Linked DNA regions of Homo sapiens: region 1 is linked to region 2. The links come from fine-mapping of genetic effects on gene expression. Tissue or cell type: whole blood. Region 2 holds a variant in brackets; the other region holds the start of a gene. Each region is shown on its reference strand, or each on the opposite one. Region 1 holds the start of MKNK2 (MAPK interacting serine/threonine kinase 2). Region 2 holds the start of LOC107986482 (a long non-coding RNA gene).

Region 1 (2,734 bases), not on the chromosome of region 2:
GTTGGCACCTGGAGCTAACGTGTGTTTGTGCGTGTATGTGTTCACACGCACACACACGCACCCACATGCACAATAAGGGGGGCTGGGGGACCTGGTTTTCTGTCCCCCCATTGCCAAGAGTCAGGGCAATGCCAGGTGCTGGGCTGGGTTCTGGCTGGGAATTCCCCACAGGCTTCCCCCCAATGCCCCGGGGGTGGCTGAGGCCAGGCCTCCCAGCCCCTGTGGCCTGAGAGCTGTGGCCTTGCAGGCAGGGGCCCTCCAGCTTCAGGTCAGTGGGGCTCCAGCCCCTCTTGAGCTCAGGGCCTGGTTGGGGGATGGTGGGATGGGCTGTGCGAAGCTTCTGGAAACCCCTGCAGAAGAGGAGACCACAGTCCACCCAGCAGGGGAACCCCCACTCCTTGTGTGCCCCAGGCCCGGGGCCTGGGGAGCACTTTGAACCAGGATGCTGTGGGATGGGGGACTGGCAGCTCAGGACAGGCTGATTCTATCTAAGCCTGGTTTGGGGCCCCAGCCAAAATGGGACTGTGTTTTACTTCCTGTCCTGGCGACCATCCACCCCTTGGGCTCTTTCCCAGTGGGTCTCAGGTCCCAGTTCTCCCTGAAATGCTATTCGAGGACAGAGGAAGGGTCCTTCACAGACCTCGGTCCCCACCCTCTACTCTGGTTCCTGCCAACCACAAAGCAAACTCGGGGAGCTCAGTGCTCCCCAGGCAGGGTGGCCCAGGGGAAGAAGAAAGTAGGTGGCGGTGGCTGGTCCCCCAGCACTAGAAGGGAGTGGCTGGGACTCCAAGCGTGCTGGTGGTGCACGAGGGGGACTGCTGGAGCCAGCACTGGAGAACTGCAAGAGGGAGCCATGGCAGGTTCTAGAGCGAGGGCATGAACCAAGGGAGTCGGGGTATACTAGGCCTGGGTTGACAGGCCAAGGGAGTTGCCCTGTGTGGGGCCAGGCGGTAGGACACGGCCCAGGGCCTCGCAGGTCCCACGGGCCCCGCGAGCCTCAGGCGGCAAAAACAGGCCAGCTCCGGGCGCGCCGCAGGGTCGCTGCCTAGGTTCCGCACCGAGACCCCCGTGCGCCGCACTGCGCAGGCGTGCGCTAGCCGTTTCGGACACGCCCCACCGCCGGAGCGCGCAGCCGCACTGGGTTCCCGGAGAGCGCCCTCTTCTGGCTCCGCCCACGTCGTGCGCAGGGGGTGAGGCCGGGCGGAGCCTGCGTCGGGGGCGGGGCCAGAGCAGGTCCGGGCCTATAAAGGTGGCGGCGGCGGCGACGCGCCCGGCTCCTCTCAGCGGCGGTGGCCCAGGTAGAGGGGTCCGCGCTGGCGGCGGCGGCGGCGCTGTTCCCCGCGCGGTCCGCGGAGCGGGGTCCGGGCTGCGCGACGTGGGGCGGCGGCGGCACTGCGGCCCCGGCCCAAGCCCGACCCCGGTGAGTGCGAACCCCAGGGCGGCCCCGAGGACACCGACCCGGTAGCGGGAAACGGGCCCCGCGGAGCCCTCGCCGCCCCCGCCCGGTCCGCGCTCCTGGCAGGCCGGGCTCCGCTCACCGCCCTCCCTTTGTCTGCTCCCGCCCGCAGGGTCCCCTCCTCGGCCGCCCCCCGCCCGGCCGCCCGCCCTCGGGCCTCCCCCCGGGCCCTCGGTCCCCTCCCCCGCTGGCGGGGCCCGGACAGAAGATGGTGCAGAAGAAACCAGCCGAACTTCAGGGTTTCCACCGTTCGTTCAAGGTGAGGCCCGGGGTCGGTTTGGGGGCGCTCCGGGCTGGACCACCGGAATGGCCGGCGTGGGGGGCGCGGGGCCCGCCCCTAAGATCGGCTCCCGGGGCTCGTGCCTGGCCCCCGCCCTACACCCGGGGCTGCCCGGGCCGGCCGTGCGCTGAAGCGGGGTCGGTGTGCGAGGATGGGGGTTCAGCAGGCCACAGTCCTCTCTCCAGCCATGGCCGCCGGGTCCTTCCTCCAGGACCCCCAAGTGAGGCTGGGAGCAGGAGCCCCCTCCGGGTCAGGGCACCAGGCTGTGTGTCCCCTGCAAGCCCCCGCCGGGTATGTTCTGGGGGGTCAGCAGGCTGCAGTCCTGTCCCAGTCGCTGCATGTGGCTTATGGGGGGTGTCCCCTGCAAGCTCCAGCTGGTTGTGCCCTGGTGGGGACGGGTCAGCGGGCCACAGTCCCATTCCCACCTCCATGTGGCTTCTGGGGACTTTCTTTCAGAATCCCCAGGCCGGGCTGGTCAGGTGCACCCACCCCCAGGGGGCCTGTGCCGTGGGGGAGGGGATGGGATGTCCCCTCAGCCCTGCACTTCGCAGACACCCCAGGCCCAAGTGCTGTTTCCTGTCGGAGCGGGAAGTTTCTGCGCAGCCCGGGTGGTGACTGCTGTTGAGTGCTGGTTTCAGATGAGCAAATCTTGGGGGGGAAGGGGAGGGCAGGTGCTGGGCAGGGGCCCCGCAGGACCTGGCCCAGGGGACGCAGTGATGTCAGCCGGCCCGCCCCACCCCTCAGGCCGGGGTTATGTAATCGCTTCACTGGGCTTCCTTGGGCAGGGACCTGTTGCCCGGTAGGGAAGGCAGGACTGGAGAGAGGAAGAGAGAGTGTGAGTGTATGTGTGTGTGTTTGTGTGTGTGTGTGTCTCTGTCTTGTGTGTACACACAACGCGGTGCTCCAGGGTGGGAGGAGCAAAGAGAGACTGGGAAGAATTCCCAGGTCTGTCCAGCCAGTGCCCCAGGGCAGCACTCCACCCCTGCCACCCCTGCCCA
Region 2 (3,003 bases):
GCCATGAAGAAAGGCATGCAAGATGGACTAGTTTAGTGTGCGTGAAGATGGAGGGACTATCCAAGGAGGTGACATTTCGGCCATGACTTGCACGCTGAAAAAAAAAAAATCCAGTCATGATTTCCAGAGTCATGAAATCCAGAGCATTTCAGGCAAAGAGGCGAAGGCCTTGAGGGGAAATGCCATTGGTGTATTAGGAGGGAAAAAGAAAGAGAAATAATGTGTGAGTAGAGAGAGAAGAGGTAGGAGAGGCAAGCAGGGCCAGATCACACAGACTGAAAGTCAAGGTGAAGTGTTGATAAGGAGTGTGGATTTCCTTCCAAGTGCTGTAGAAAGCTACCGGGTTCTATGTAGGCAATCATCATACAGTTGACCTTCAAACAACACAGGTTTGAACTGCACAGGTCCACTTACAGGTGACTTTTCTTCCACCTCTGCCACCCCTGAGAGAGCAGGACCAACCACTCCTTTTCCTCCTCCTCAGCCTACTCGAGTTGATGATGACAAGGGTGAAGACCTTTATGCTGAGTCACTTCTGCGTAGTGAACGTAAATATACTTTCTCTTCCTTATGATTTTCTCAATAACATTTTCTTTACTCTAGCTTCCTTTATTGTAAGAATACAGTATACAATACATATAACATACAAAATATGTTAATTGACTGTTTATGTTCTCAGCAAGGCTTGCAGTCAACAGTAGGCTATCTGTAGTGTTTTGGGGAGTCAAAAGTTGTATGCAGATTTTCAACTCTGAGGGGGGTCAACACCCCAACTTCCATATCGTTCAGGGTTCAACTCTCTTTATGTATCCGGAAGGAAATACACCAACAGGTTAGTAGAGATTATTAACAAGTAGTGGGGTAATAAACCGTGTTTAAAAATCTGTGTGCTATTCTGTAACTCCTGAACTTTTGTAATTAGAAACAAACAGTAATTTCCATTTTTAAAGAACTCACCAGAGAGCAACATCGACAGATGACAACCATCACCTGGAGCTCCAGTTTGAAGAGGCTTTTCCCTGAGCAATCTCTTTTGATTTTCACGATAACCCTGTGAGTGAAGCCAGACCATTGTCATTAAGACCTCCATTTTGGAGGTGAGGCAATTGAGGCCGGGAGTTGCAAAGAGGCTGAGGCAGGAAATGACAAAACTGGGACAGGAATCAAGGTTCCACA[A/G]CACTGGTCTAAGCTTCCTGATTTTGTGGCCCAGCCAGGCTAATGGCTGAGTCTGCATCAAATTCACCCAGAGACCCCAGGGCCCTAACAGGAAGTCTACAAGGTTACTCTCCTGCTTCGGGGAGGGCAGGGATGGACCTAGAGCCCCCAGCTGCCGATGACTGGAACAAAAAGAGGGTCTTTCCCACATAGTAGATGCTCAACAAACATTTGTTGAATTAATGCAATAGCTTGCTTTTGGGGGAAATGCCACCTTGGGGAGGATGGTTTTGCTGACTTTACAATTTAGTAGCTGTGCATCCTCCTCTGTCACTCCCCTCCACAAAGTTGGAGTGTAGGCTCTGGAGCCGGAATGTCTGGGCTTGAATCTGCCTCTACCACTGACCACCAGCTGTGACCTACCCTTTCCACCTCAGTTTTCTGATCTGTAAAGTGGGAGTAATAATGATGGTCTCCTTGGGTTACTGTTTGGATTAAATGAATGAATGAAGGCTTTGAAGAGATGTTGGCATACAGTGTGTGCTCCATAAGCGTCAGAGGTTACTAGCATCAGCATGAAAGGGCTGTTGAAAGGGTGAGGTGAGGCTCCTGGCAGCACAGGCAGAGCTGAGCAGGGTCTCAATGGGTGATGGCTACCGCGGCTGTCCTTCTACCCCCATGACTCCCCTTGCTGGTGCCTCAGTGGTTATTCACAGGAAACATACAGAAATGCACTGCACATCATTTTTTAGAGAAGGGACACCCCTATCCACCAGAAGGGTCCTTTGCCAAGTCAAATAATAGACCTGTACTCTCTCATCTCAGGAGGTTTCTGTCTGTTCAAGGTCACGTGAAGAATTTCCTGGCACTTTCCAGTGTCTCTGACTCTAATTCATTTAAAGAGCCACCTTTTAAATTTCAGGCTTGACATTTGCTTAATAACATGTGTGGAGCCTGCTCTGGTGAGCGGCCCCAGGGTCACCAGCCCATCCCTCTGTCCTCCACTCCTGCTTTCAAACTTCAATGGTTTAAGGTCTACCGATAATTTTGCTATCACTGCATATCATGTGGTCTAGTCTTTCCCTCATTATTTTTCCTCAACTTGTCTCCCATTTAAAACTTAAAATACATTTCTTCAAAAGGAAAACTTACTACCATAGATGGAAAGCCAATCCCACCTGCTACAAATAGAAGCTATCCAGAAAAAGATATACCACGAAAATAAAATGATATTATGAAACTCTAGAATATTTAATTCTAGAGGAATAGGGTTGCCTGTGGAAGACTCTGGGCTTGAGGCCTGTTTGATTCCCATTTGAAAGGGAGATTTGGAGAGGTGTTAAAGTTTGAGGGAGGCGTTAAAGACCTATTAGTACCAAAGTGAGATTTTCTTCTTGGTGTAATGACAAGGATTGAAAGAGAATTTTCACAGGAGAAAAACTCTCTTACCACAGGATGCAATCTATTTGTTTCCCTGTCTTTTCACTTTCCCCTACTCCCCAGGGGCAAGGGGCTCCCTATTGTATGATTCAGTTCTTTATTGAGAAGAGTTAAAGAGAGAGCAGCCCAGCCCCAGCTTCTTGCTTATTATATCATGCAAATAAGATTCTTTCCCTGCTTTGAAATGAGGGAGCCGAATTAGAGAGATGTTCTTCTCAGAGGATCTCCAGGCCCTGAAAGTCTGCGAGGCCCCATCCAAAAGTTCATTTGGCTGCTGTCTTGGTCATTCCAGGCTGCCATAGCAGAATACCATAGACTGGGTGGCTTATAAACTACAGAAATTTATTCCTCGCAGTTTTGGAGGCTGGAAGTTGAAGATCAGTCACTGGCAGTTTGGAATCTGACGAG

Evidence for each region. PIP is the estimated chance that this variant, and not a neighbour inherited with it, causes the effect. A credible set is the group of variants that fine-mapping cannot tell apart.
Region 1: MKNK2 starts here. The variant in region 2 is the best candidate, but not a certain one, in a credible set for the expression of MKNK2 in whole blood (TOPMed, PIP 0.74).

The regions. Positions count from the first base shown.
Region 1 is chr19:2,049,782-2,052,515 of GRCh38, reverse strand. MKNK2 (MAPK interacting serine/threonine kinase 2) reads left to right here and starts at 1,272. Exons shown (of 14, transcript NM_199054.3): 1 at 1,272-1,420; 2 at 1,569-1,715. The coding sequence starts at 1,665. RefSeq lists silencers at 1,098-1,637, 2,368-2,557 and enhancers at 2,128-2,187, 2,364-2,734.
Region 2 is chr5:173,776,396-173,779,398 of GRCh38, reverse strand. LOC107986482 (a long non-coding RNA gene) reads right to left here and starts at 1,123. Exons shown (of 2, transcript XR_001743004.2): 1 at 958-1,123. RefSeq lists enhancers at 334-553, 379-673, 430-1,629. The variant A/G (reference allele first, on the strand shown) is at 1,177.